3 separate regions of the Homo sapiens genome follow, and regions 1 and 3 are each linked to region 2. Evidence: fine-mapped expression QTL. A gene starts in region 2. Each other region holds a variant in brackets. All regions are shown on one strand. Distances are between the middles of the regions.

Region 1 (4,199 bases), 46 kb before region 2:
GGCCTAGAAATTGCAAAATAGCTTTAAGTACTGAGGGCTTACTAAGGGCCAGGTGCCTGATGGTCCATCTTTCCCAACATTTTTCAACGTAGGCATTATTATCTCATTTCACAGACGAGAAAAGTGGTCTCATGTTACACCACTTGCACACCGTTACTCCTAAGGTTTTTGTGAGTCAGAGTAAGCGAACTGCTAGAACAAAGAATCCCAGATCTCTGCAGCTGAGCACAGGCTGATTTCTTGCTCATGTCACAGTCTAGGGTGAATCCAAGTGGTGATTCAGGGACCCAGGCTCTATTTATTCTCTAGTGCTACCATCTTTAGCTTGTGGCCTGCATGCTTGCAACAAAAGGGAAACTGAGTAAAGGATCCTGCTTGGGAGACTTTCATGGGCCAAGTGGATGTGGCGTACGTCTCTCTTCCACCCCCTTTCCATTGGCCCAACTCATGCCTAGATCAAGGGGGCTGGGAAATGTGGTCTCAGGGTGGTCAGGAAGAGGGGGACACCAGGAAGAGGGGGACACCCAGGATGTCAGGGGACTCTGGATGGTACATCCCTGAGCAGCTGATCCTGGGCCTGTGTCCTTAGCCAGAGGCTACTGCCCTTCATGCACCAGGGAGGAACTGGGCACCCTGGGGAATGGCAAGTAACTGGGGTGGCGCCTGGACTTTGTCCTGTGGGCAGCCAGGAGCCACCAACAGGCTTTCAGGAGGGAAGTGCCCTGGGCAAGCCTGGGTTGCAGAGAGATAAGACTGCCGAGGAGAGAGCGTCGGGGAGGCAGGGGCGAGGTGACCAGGCCTGCAGTTCTTGTGAGCAGCCCAGAGCCCTTGGGGACCCCAGGCTGAGTCTCTGGACCCCTGCTCCAGCGCTCATCCTCCTCCTTCCCAGCCCATCATGAAATCCTGGCCACCCAAGCCTCAGCCATGCCTTCCCAACAGGGACAATAGGCAGGACACCCAGCTCCGCCCCAGAATGCAGCTGAGGGGAAGGCCGAGGGGAAGGCAGCGGAGGGCAGACGTGAGGCTATAATTCTATTGCCAGCTTCTGGGAGCCAGCAGGGGCAGAGGCACGGATAACCACATTTGGTTCATTGCAGGCGCCGGGGACATCACTCAGGCCCGGCAAGGAGCCAGTCATCCAGACTGCATGTGCCCTGCAGGGAAACCGTCTCCCAGCAGCCTCGTTAGGGTAGGGGCTTGAACAGGAGACCGAGGGCAGACCTCGGCAGGGCCATTTGAGAGGCTGGGAGGCTGGCAGCTTCTGAGAACCACTGCCAGGAGCTGGTCCCTGACTCTAAACCCCCTCTCCTGGAGCCATGGGTCGGTCGCACGGGGCAGTGTGAAAGGAGCCAGGTGGTGGGGGTGGTGCCCTCCCCAGGGGAAGCTTGGTGAGGCAGGCAGGGAATCGGGCCCTGGATCTTGGCTTCCTTAGCTGGAGCGGAGAGGCGTTTCCTGACGTATGGGAACACCTGGTGTGCAGTTACACGCTGGCTCCTGTAAACCTCCTCGCACCCATTCCCACTCAATGCTGCCTGGTAACAACACCTCTCCCTCTTCTGTCCCCTCCAGGCCCTTCCAGGCTTTGCAAAAGGAGATGGGTGTGGCCCCTGTGGGATTTCCCCAGTGCCCAACCCTGATGGCAGCTGCTGGCTCCTCCCTGTCCTCGTCCTCCCTCCCATCACAGGCCTCCTGCAACAACCACCCCACCCCCCAGAGCTGGCCCCCAGGACATGCCTGTTTTCAGGCTTGGCTTGCACTACCCTGCCTCGTCTCATGAACCTTGTGAGCC[C/T]TGTGCTCTCCCCAATCTACAGAGGATGGCCGGCTCCCCCAGAAAGGGGAGGGAGCTTGCCTGAGGTCGCACAGCAACAGGGGGTAGAGTCAGTCCATGAACTCACAGGGGTGTCCCGCAGGAATTGCTGCCACTTCCCTCCTGCCCTGGCCCTCCTCTCTATCTTCAGACCTCCACCCTTCCCTCCCACTGCAGGGTCCCTGGAGCTGAGGATATTATAACCATGCCCCACATACACACTCTTCCTTCCTGGTGCCCCAGGAATGGTGGGAAACCAATGCCCGCCTTTACTGGCAGAAGAAGCCAGAAAGGATCCCCAAAGGGCAAGAGGGAAGCTGGCAGCTGGGAGGCTCACCTGCAGGTCAGCCCTAGAGGCGCTCTGTGGCGGCCGGGGGAAGGTGGCAGCTGGGACAGGCTTAGAAGACAGGAGAGGAGGGAAAGGCTAAGGAGGCTCATGGTATTTAGGATCCTAGTTAAGGATCTTTACTCACTCAGCCATGTAATCCAATGAAGTATCAGCTTCAAGCCAGTGCCTAGGTGAAAATTGTTGATATTCTAATTCCTTCACAAACAGCTTCTGCATGTGCCCAAAGCTGTTGCTTCATCTCCTCCATATTTGGGCCTTGCCCCACCTCTCTCGCTGACAGGGTGGCATCCTGTGGGCAGAGGTCTGGGGCAGGCCCCTGGCAGGAATAACTCCTGTAGCACTGGCCTTTCTAGGGGCAGCACAGGGGAGGAGAGGGACCCTTTGGAGTCAGAGGCCTGGGTCTGCATGTCCAGCCTCTCATTTATGGGCTGTGTGCCCCTGGGCAAGTGGCTTCCCTTTTCAAGGATTCAGTTTCCTCTTGTGTAAATGGGCTAGTGTAGCCAAACTTTCAGGGTGGTTCTGAGGATCCCATGCTGGGCAGTTTACACCACACCCGGCACTCAGCAACCGGGAGCTCCCACTGTGACTTGCCAGAGTCTCAGCCACCTTGGGGCATTTCTTCTGTCCACTGTGCCATAGCCTTTAAGTCAGCTTCTGGAAAACCGAACTCCTTGTCTTGGTCTTCACTCCAGATCCTCCACTTAACTTCCACATTTCTGACCTGAGAATGACATTCCCCTATGCTGAGGCTAAAAGCTATGAAATAATCTTTAACTTTGTCTCTTGGCTTAAGTGGCCACCACGCTTTGATTAAGCCCCTCACTCAAATTTGCTTTCACCCCTTCACCCTTCACTCCATATTCAGACCAGGGTCAGGAACAGAGGCTGTCCATGGCAAGGGCCCATTCTGTATGAGCTACAGGGTGTGGGCTAGAGGTGGGGATACAGAGTGGGGGCCCTGCCCTCTGGGAGCTTCCACTCAAATGCAGGAGGACAACTTGCCCAATCTTCACCACGACAGAGGCAAGGGGCCAACAGTGCTGCTGACCATGAATGAATGGAAAGGCCACAGGGAGGAGGGGGCCTTTGGATGGTACCATGCAGAAGGAGGGTAAAGGCGTTCCAGGCTCGAGAACACTGACTGTTCATTTGATGATATTTAAGTGCCTGTTACGTACAGGAGGAGGCTTACACCAAGTAACTAGGACAGAAGACTCTGTTCTCAGAGGGTATATGAATTCAAACACGATTAGAATTATGGGGAAAATAAAACAAGGTCATGTGGCAGAGAGTGACAATGGGAGGCCTCTCTAAGGAGACATTTCCAGAAGATCTCAATGATAGAAAGGAGCCACATGAGACTGAAGGGAGAACATTCCAGGCAAAGGGAACAGCAAATAGACATATAGACTAGTGGAGTAGAATTGAGAGTCCAGAAATAAACCCAATATGTCTATAGTCCATTGATTTTCAACAAGAGCAGCCCGAACATTCAATGAGAAAAGAATAGTCTTTTTGATAAATGGTACTGGGAAAACTGGATATCCACATGCTAAATAATGAAAATGAAGCCCAACTTCACACCATCTATAAGAATTAACTCAAAATGGATCAGAGATCTTACATTTAGTAAGTGCTTAAACTATAAAACCCTTGGAAGAAAATATAGGGGTAAATATTCATGACCTTGGATTTGGTGATGAATTCTCAGCTATGACACCAAAAGTGTAAGCAACAAAAGAAAAAATAGGTAATTAGAATTCATCATAACTAAAAACTTGTTCCTCAAAGAATACCATCAAGAAAGTCAAAAGACAACCTACAGAATGGGAGAAAGTATTTGAAAATCAAATACTTACACACCTGATAAGGATCTAGTATCCAGAATACATAAAGAACTCTTTCAACTCAATAACAAAAAGACAAAGAACCCAACTGAAAAACTGGGCAAAGGACCTGAATAGGCATTTCTCCAAAGACAATATATGAATGGCCAAACAGCACATGAAAAGATGTTTAACATCACTGTTTGTTAGGGAAATG
Region 2 (4,199 bases):
CTCAGCTGGCGCTGGGCTCCCAAGTCAGCTCACAGAGGAAGAAGGGGGCAGATCACACAGTGGCTACCACATCTGGTAGGATCTCACCCACCCTTAGGGCAAGGTTGTCCCCTGTTCAGCCCGATTGCTTCAACCCTGAGTGCTTCAGCCCTCATTGCTCCAACATCTGAACTCCAGTCTCCATTTCAACTGGCTTTGTTCAGGCTATTTATACACCCTCATTCCTCAGCTGACATCCCCAGACAGCAAGGCCCTGAGCCTGACTTTTGTTTTTTGTTTTTTGTGAGATGCTCTGTCGCCCAGGCTGGAGTGCAGTGGCGCAATCTCAGCTCACTGCAAGCTCCGCCTCCCAGGTTCATGCCATTCTCCTGCCTCAGCCTCCTGAGTAGCTGGGACTACAGGCGCCCGCCACCACGCCCGGCTAATTTTTGTATTTTTGGTGGGGACGGGGTTTCACTGTGTTAGCCAGGATGGTCTCGATCTCCTGACCTCATGATCTGCCCGCCTCAGCCTCCCAAAGTGCTGGGACTACAGGCGAGAGCCACCGCACCCAGCTGAGCTTCAGACTTCTTAATCACACCTGCAGACAGTCCTGCACAGGGTGGCTGACAATCTCAGACTGCGACTAACCGCTTAGCTCCACGCCCAGGCCCTTTAAGAGCTTGGTTTTTCTTATAAAAGTAACAATCCACTAAGAAAGATACAAAAAGAAAGAGTAGACTTAAGCAATTGCCCATAGAATTTCCACCCATTCACACCTGTAGTCCCAGCTGCTCGGGAGGCAGAGGCAGGAAGATCACTTAAGGCCAGGAGTTCAAGACCAGCCGGGGCAATATAGCAACACCACTCCATCTCTTAAAAACCACTTAGAGCCCAGAGTAAGCTGGTCCATTTCCTCCCAGGCTCTGCATTTCTGAGTGTTCGGTGTGGTTTTCACACTACATAACGTCGTGCCCCTCCAGGCCGTGAGAAGATGTAGTGCCCTCACCTTGGTTAATTGCAGGAATGTCCTTGTCCCCGGAGGCCTGGGTTCCCTCAGGGGTGAGGCCATCTGGGAAGCTGGTACCACAGGCTCCTGCGCAGCTGGAGGCCAGGGGCGCTCCTAGGATCACACCTGGTCCAGACAGACAGGGGCATACACAGATGCCTGGAGCACCCACCGGTGAGACCAGACAGCAGGACATGGGGTGGGTGTGGGGGATCAGACGGTAAGACTCAGTCCCTAGGAAGAGTAGGCTCCAGCACAAAGCCAAGGAGCCTTCCCAGCCTCCCTGCTCAACCCCAACTGGTGCCAAGGTCTAGATGACCTCAGGGAAGGAGCTCCCTTAGGGGGACCAAAAGGGACCATGTGCCCCACCTATGAGGTAGAGGAGGGGCAGGAAGGAAGGAGGCAGGACAGACCTCGGGTTCTGACGCCCGTGACGGGCAGGGCCAGCCTCAGACCCCACCTTATGACTCTCTCTCAGCCCAGGCTCTTGGACAATGGGCTCAGCCTGGATGACTCCCTGCCTGACCAGGCTGGAGTGGGGACTTACAGCCTACCCCCACCCCAAGACAAGTAGGCCTGGGGCACAACACTTATCTTCTGCCAGGCAGGCCCTCTGCTTCCAGGGCCTTCAGGAGGCCTCCCCTTGGCCCCCCAGGAGCTGACTTCTAGAATAACCCTGGAGAGCTCTGTGCTCTGAGCTACTGAGCTCAGCTACAATCCCTGCAGGCTCCAGCCACAACCTTCTAGCCTCTCCCCAGCTTTCTCCAGGCTGGAGCCAGCAGCAGGAGGGACAGGCAGCCAGCTTACCTGGCAAGGAGAGCAGACCCAGCACCCAAGGCCAGAGACCCCCTACACCCTCCATGGTAGAGCCCTGCTGCCCCTTCAGCAAACAAGACCAAGCCCCAGCAAGACACAGTAACCTAATTGCAGAACCGGCACCACCACCCCCTCTTAAATAGCAGCTGCTCCACCTCCCACCTTGCTCCCCTCAACCGCCTCCACCTGCAGCCCCGCCCCAACCACCTCCACCTGCAGCCCCGCCCCAACCATCTCCACCTGCAGCCCCGCCCCAACCACCTCCACCTGCAGCCCCGCCCCAACCAGCTCCACCTGCAGCCCCGCCCCAACCAGCTCTACCGGCAGCGCCACCCAAACCAGGTCTACTGGCAGCCCCTCCGATGCCTACCTGTGGTTCCCACCCCAGCCCAGTCCCCTTCCTGGCTGTAGCAGGTGAAAGACAGGAGGGGCCCGCTTGGGAGTGTGGCTCTTCTGAGGTTCCTTCCTGCCTCCAGGGGGCAGAGAAACATCGCAGAAAGTTGCTCCAGGCCTAGCTGAGGCCCCAGCCCAGGTATAGACCTATTCCTCCAGCGAGGGAGACCCCCTTTCCTACCCCGGCCTGTGCTTAGACATGGGGAAAGCTGCCTGAGACCCTGGGGCGCCCCCCGTGTATCTCCGGAAGGAGGAAAAGGTCACTGCACTTTCACAAGCTTTTATTTTAGTACACATATAGAAAAGTTCACTATCACAAGCACAGGGCTCCAGGAAATTTCACAAACTGAACAGTGTGCAGCACCCTAGAAAGCCTGCCATGTGGGAAAGGTGGAACCCCCAGATGCCCAGAGCCTCGCAGGGAGTCCACCCCCTAATCCCACAGCAGCTGGCATGATCAGTCAGTATTTATTCCCATTTCACAGATTTGGAAATTTAAACTCCTTACCTATATCCCCCCTCCTCCATACCCCTGAGCCCCAGAGCCAGGTCACTCAGGGCCCCACCTGGATTGAAATCCCAGAGGCGGAGCATGTCAGCGCTGGGCAGCATTTGGGGACACCCCCACAGTCACCTGCACCCAGTGAAGGGAAGCGACAGAGCCAAGAAGAATAGCTATTGTCCACAAGGACCTTTCAGCATTCCCACTGTGCCTGGAATCCAGAGCTTCTCCAAAGATAGGAATCAGAATCACAGGGAGACCATGATGGAGGCAGACGCCCTGCTGCCAGGGCAGGGTATTGACAGATGTCAGGATACACACCATGGATATGCTAGTTAGCTTGTTGTGGTCATCATTTCACAAGGTATGCATATGTCAAAACATCACGTTGTATACTTAAACATATACTACTTTTATTTGTCGATTATGCCTCAGTAAACCTAGAAAAAATAAGTAAAATAAAGAATAGGACCCATCAAAAAACAAATGCACAAGGCTGACCACTTAAGATGAGTGTTCAGGAGGGCGCGGTGGCTCACGCCTATAATCCCAGCACTTTGGGAGGCCAAGGCAGGTGGATCACGAGGTCAGGAATTCAAGACCAGACTGGCCACCATGGTGAAACCCCATCTCTACTAAAAGAATACAAAAATTAGCTGGGCACGGTGGCGGGCACCTGTAATCCCACCTACTCGGGAGGCTGAGGCAGGTGAATCACTTGAACCCAGAGGTGGAGTTTGCAATGAGCCAAAATCGCGCCACTGCACTCTAGCCCGGGGGACAGAGTGAGACTCCATCTCAAAAAAAAAGATGAATGTTCAGTAAAAAAAAATAAAGTAGACCGGGCGCAGTGGCTCATGCCTGTAATCCCAGCATTTTGGGAGGCCAAGGCAGGCAGATTACTTGAGGTCAGGAGTTCGAGACCAGCCTAGCCAACACGGTGAAACCCCATCTCTACTAAAAATACAAAAATTAGCCAGAAATCCCTTGAACTCAGGAGGCAGAGGTTGCAGTGAGCCAAGATTGTGCCACTGCACTCCAGCCTGGGCAACAGAGTGAGACTCTGTCTCAAAAAACAAAAGAATTAAAATAATGATAAGAAATAATCACCCTGCTTGGGGAGAGAAACAGAGTCTTTATTAGGACATGCAGTTGGTCTGAGGATATTTTGCTGAGCGAAACAAGCCAGTCACAAAAAGACAAATCCTGCATGCTTCTACCTCCAAGAGGTGTCTAGAGTAGCCCAGTGCACAGGGACGGAAAGTGGAACGGAGCTCACAAGGGGCTGGGGACTGGGGAGGGGAGTTATCATTTAATAGGTATAGGATTTCAGGTTCGCAAGATGAAAAAGCTCTGGATATCTGTGCACAACGATGTGAATACACTTTACTAAACACTTGATAATGGTAAAGATGACCAATTTTATGTTGCATTTTTTACCACAATTAAAAGTTTAAAAATTTAATAAATAGGAAAGAAGGAAAGGAGGAAAAGAGAGAG
Region 3 (4,199 bases), 210 kb after region 2:
TTGTATCATTTTAGGAAGAGGTAACTGAGGCACAATGACTTGCCTGAAACGACACATCTAGTAAGTGAGCTAGAAGTTGAAGCTAAGTGGTCTAACTCCAGAATCCTAGCTTTAAATCATCTATCTAGCAAATCCTAAGGAATCGGCTTAAACAAATGGTACTGGAGGCCTCATCTATAATTAGCACAGTTAATTTAAAGCAAACAGGTGTTACTACAATTTTATTTTTTAATTCTGCCATTAAAAACATTGTTTCAGTGAACATTCTAATACATATTATCTTTGCACTCGTATGGGAGAATATCTGTAAGAAAATTCTGAGACATGGATTTTAAGTTGCCCTCAAAAAAAGGTACTAATTTACTCTCCCACTAGCAGTAGACTAGATTACTTTTCTCTCTTACCTCCACAACATTCATAAATGGTAATTAAGGTCACAAAACTAGAATTGGTCACCAAGGAAATGAATGTATATGGGAAAAAGACTGGGAGTTCCTTTTCCCCAATCTTAGGAGTTCAGAGAGCTGAAAAAACATCCAGTAGGTAGGAGGAAAACCAGAAGAGCGTGGTATCCAAATGAGAAAATATTTCAGGGAGTGGGGAATGATCAACCATGCCAAATGTGGCAACCTGAGGCCACTAATGAGCTTGGAGTGGGGGCCCCTCTGAAACTCAAGCTCAGACCTCCAGGGAAGGGCTTGGCTGGTGCTAGTGTCCCTGAGTTTGAGGGAGGGGATTGTGTGCCCAGGACCCAGACCCTGGAACGGGGGCATGCTGGCTGGTGCTGGTGTCTCAATAAGGCTGGTTCTGTGAGTGTGAAAATCTGCCAGTGGGGTTCAGCTGCTGCTACAGGTGGGCTCTGCTGCAGCCGGGGTGGAACACTGCTGGGTGACGCTCTCCTAACATGCAACCTGCAGAAAGGAGCAGTGCCTTCTCTCCCTTGGAGCCTGTAGTCTCCCTCTAGTGCCCCTACTTGGTAAACCCTAACAGGGAGCTGCCGGCAAAGCTGAATGTCCCAGACCCTGCATCACAGCCAAGGAGAGAGGGTAGGCTTAGAGCTGAGAGGCAGTAGCTTAGTAACTGGGACATGGTGAAGTGTCATGAGGATTACTGACAAAAGACTCTGGGGTGGGGAGAGAGATATATATAGAGAGAGTAAATGAAAACAAATATGCAAAATGCTACCCATTGGGTAATCTGAGTAGAAGCTTTACAGAGATTCGTATTACTGTTTCAACATTCTTGTGGATCTGAAATTTTTTTTATGATAAATGGGAGGAAAGGACTGAAAACACTTGAATATAGGTAGTTGTTTTGAAGAGTTTTGCTATAATTTGGAGCAGAGTACTGGGATAGCAAATGGAGGGAAAAGTAAGGCCAAGAGTTTTGATTTTGTTTTTGAATGGGAGAAATGACAGCATATTTTGTTGATGACAGCAGTCTAGTTTGGAGAAGGGATTATTGATGATGCAGCAGAAAGGAGAATTGCCAGGCTGATGTCCTTGCGCAGGTGAGAGGTAGGGAATGGACAGCACAGGTTGGGCTCGGCTGACGGGTGTTGTTTGGGTGCACTCATGGGGGAGCCTTCTGGATACTGTCTTAAAACAGGAAGCCAGGTCATCAGCTTACAGTGAGGATAGGGAAGGAAGGCACTGGGGGCGTGAGGAGGGGAAAGGGTAGGAAAGAGTCCTCTAGGAGGTGGGCGAGTACATGAACTAGGGAGATATGGTGTGACTGTTAGACAACTTAGGGTCTACTTGAGGGTGGTGGCAGATGGATATAAAGTGAGGTCAGTCAGCATTATTTTGTGTCTCTGTCCAGCCGTGAATAGCTGTGTGGGTACAATCATGGAGTAGGCAGAAAGTTGGGTTTAATATGGGATCCTGTTGAGCTGAGTGAATGGACACAGCTGGAAAGGGACACTGGAGGAGGTGAGTGCATGTGTAAAGGTGTGGTTGCATTCACT[G/A]CTTAGGGAATTTTACCTCGGAAGACAGGGGAATGAGGGCAGTGGAAAGTAATATAATCAGTAGATTGTAGGCCTGGTGGGGTCAAAGACTTCGTGGTGTTGGGGACAAGAAGGGGTGAGCTGGAAATGTAGGAGGTGGTTGCCAGAGAGGGGCCCTAGAATTGAGGATATAGAGAGGTTGCAGTCATGGTTAATGAGTCAACTCAGAGCAGGCAAGGGAGCAAATGGCGGAGGCGGGGTAGGGGTCTTACTAGGCTGTCTTGGTGTCTTACTTGGCTGTCTTGGAGTCCTGGGTTTCTTAGGATGGAGACCATTGAAGGAGAGGATATCAACCAAGAGACAGTGTACTGGATGGATCAACATATGGATATTGAAATCAATAAGAGCTACACCAGGAATAAATTTGGAGACTAGTAATGAGCCATAAACTAATACTAAGATCTTCTGAGAAGAAGGACAGGTTGTGACCTGGGGATTGGAAGATGACTGCAACACAGATGGGCAGACAGTGGCAAAAGCTGATGTTGTACTCAGAGCTGGGGCATTAGAAATTGGGAGGGGGGATAGTTGGATGCTGCAATCACCTGGCCCACCTGTAGGCCACTGGTTTGACGGCTGTGAAGAGAAAGCAGCCACTGCAGAGGCCCGCAGGGGAAGCCTATCCTCAGGCTGGCACCATGTCTCAATTGGAGCAGTGCCCCTCAGCCTGTTTTTTTTTTTTTTTTATCACTTTTGCCCCTTCAGACCCATTTAGACATTTTGTGCCTACTCCTTCCCCTTAAAATGAAATACTAAGGAATAAGATTTTGTCAGATAGGGTAGAGATTTGGATAGGCAAACATTATTGTAATATCTAAGATTTTTCCCACCTAGCCTCTAGGAAACAGTTTTCACCCCTTGAGAGTGAAATGAGAACACCATTGAGAATACATAAATTAGAACAAGTAGGTGGAGATAATCCTCAGGAACTAAGTGGGCGATAGAGAGAATTTTGCTGATGACTGAGTCTAGAGGGCCCTGAGGAAATACCAGTTTTTGAGGAGGAGTGGGAGATGGGGGCTGTGGTGGGGTGGGAGGTGGCATCAGAGTTCTATAGATCTTAGAGTCCAAGAAATGTAGAATTGTGGGTGTCTTGGGTCTTTTTGTGTAATTAATAAATAAGCCAGATAAAGGGCAACAGTGAGATGAATGCCAGTGTTCTTACAGCAGATGGTAGTGGTAAGACTGAGTGTGCAAGGGGCTAGGGAGGTGGGGCCTTGCCATGCCCACTCTGAGTGGTGAGGTGAGCAGGGCATTGCTGTGCACGGGCAGGGAGGGGCCAGAGGAAGGAGAGTCACTGAGAATGAGGCCTAAGAGGGAGGGGAGAGGCGAGAGCAGCTGGCTCTTGTGGGGAGAGGGAGTTGTATTTTTTCCTTATGTGTGTGTCAGCATTAACCGTGGGTGATGTGTGTAGCATATCACCATGTTTAAAGACCTTGACGTAGGCCGGGTGCGGTGCTTAGCTGTTGACCTGGGAAGAGTTGTGAATCTCACTGTCATATACTATAAAAAATGGGGAACGCTGGCCCCAACCACATCTCGGTTTTATATTAGTGAATCCATTTATGCCAAGGTCTCTCTCTTTTTTTTTTTTTTTTTGAGATGGAGTCTTGCTCCGTCGCCCAGGCTGGAGTGCAGTGGCGCTATCTCAGCTCACTGCAAGCTCCACCTCCCGGGTTCACGCCATTCTCCTGCCTCAGCCTCCAGAGTAGCTGGGACTACAGGCACCCGCCACCATGCCCGGCTAATTTTTTGTATTTTTAGGAGAGACGGGGTTTCACCGTGTTAGCCAGGATGGTCTTGATCTTCTGACCTTGTGATCCGCCGCCCGCCTCGGCCTCCCAAAGTGCTGGGATTACAGGTGTGAGTCACCGCACCTGGCCTATGTCAAGGTCTTTAAACATGGTGATATGCTACACACATCTGAAGTGGTATTATTTATTAGTCATAGGGATCCAGAAAGCCCTTTCTACGTTCCCTTCCCTCCCCCAATTCTCCTTGTTTTTTCCCCTTCCCAGATAATCTGGAATTTATCTTACTGTCATTATTATTATTATTTTTTTTTGAGACAGGGTCTCGCTCTGTGGCCCAGGCTGGAGTGCAGTGGCACGATGTTGGCTCACCGCAACCTCTGTCTCCCCGGTTCAAACGATTCTCGTGCCTCAGCCTCCCATGTAGCTGGGACGCACCACCA

Direction of the effects. Alleles are on the strand shown, and positions count from the first base shown. SD is a standard deviation of normalised expression in the study named. Not every link is listed here.
In carriers of allele C in region 1, the expression in minor salivary gland of the gene that starts at base 1,916 in region 2 tends to be lower than with T alone (large effect, 1.4 SD a copy in GTEx).

The links. PIP is the estimated chance that this variant, and not a neighbour inherited with it, causes the effect.
Region 1: its variant is the best candidate, but not a certain one, in a credible set for the expression of ASTL in minor salivary gland (GTEx, PIP 0.65).
Region 3: its variant is the best candidate, but not a certain one, in a credible set for the expression of ASTL in minor salivary gland (GTEx, PIP 0.86).

Annotation. Positions count from the first base shown.
Region 1 is chr2:96,090,567-96,094,765 of GRCh38, forward strand. No RefSeq gene overlaps it. Among named protein-coding and RNA genes, the nearest start is that of ADRA2B, 24 kb to the right of the region's middle. RefSeq lists an enhancer at 1,675-2,190. The variant C/T (reference allele first, on the strand shown) is at 1,790.
Region 2 is chr2:96,136,587-96,140,785 of GRCh38, forward strand. It overlaps ASTL (astacin like metalloendopeptidase), which reads right to left and starts at 1,916. Exons shown (of 9, transcript NM_001002036.4): 1 at 1,796-1,916; 2 at 989-1,114. The coding sequence starts at 1,850. RefSeq lists an enhancer at 1,771-1,840 and a silencer at 2,731-2,820.
Region 3 is chr2:96,344,604-96,348,802 of GRCh38, forward strand. All of the region lies in intron 6 of NCAPH (non-SMC condensin I complex subunit H), which reads left to right. Among named protein-coding and RNA genes, the nearest start is that of NCAPH, 11 kb to the left of the region's middle. The variant G/A (reference allele first, on the strand shown) is at 1,967.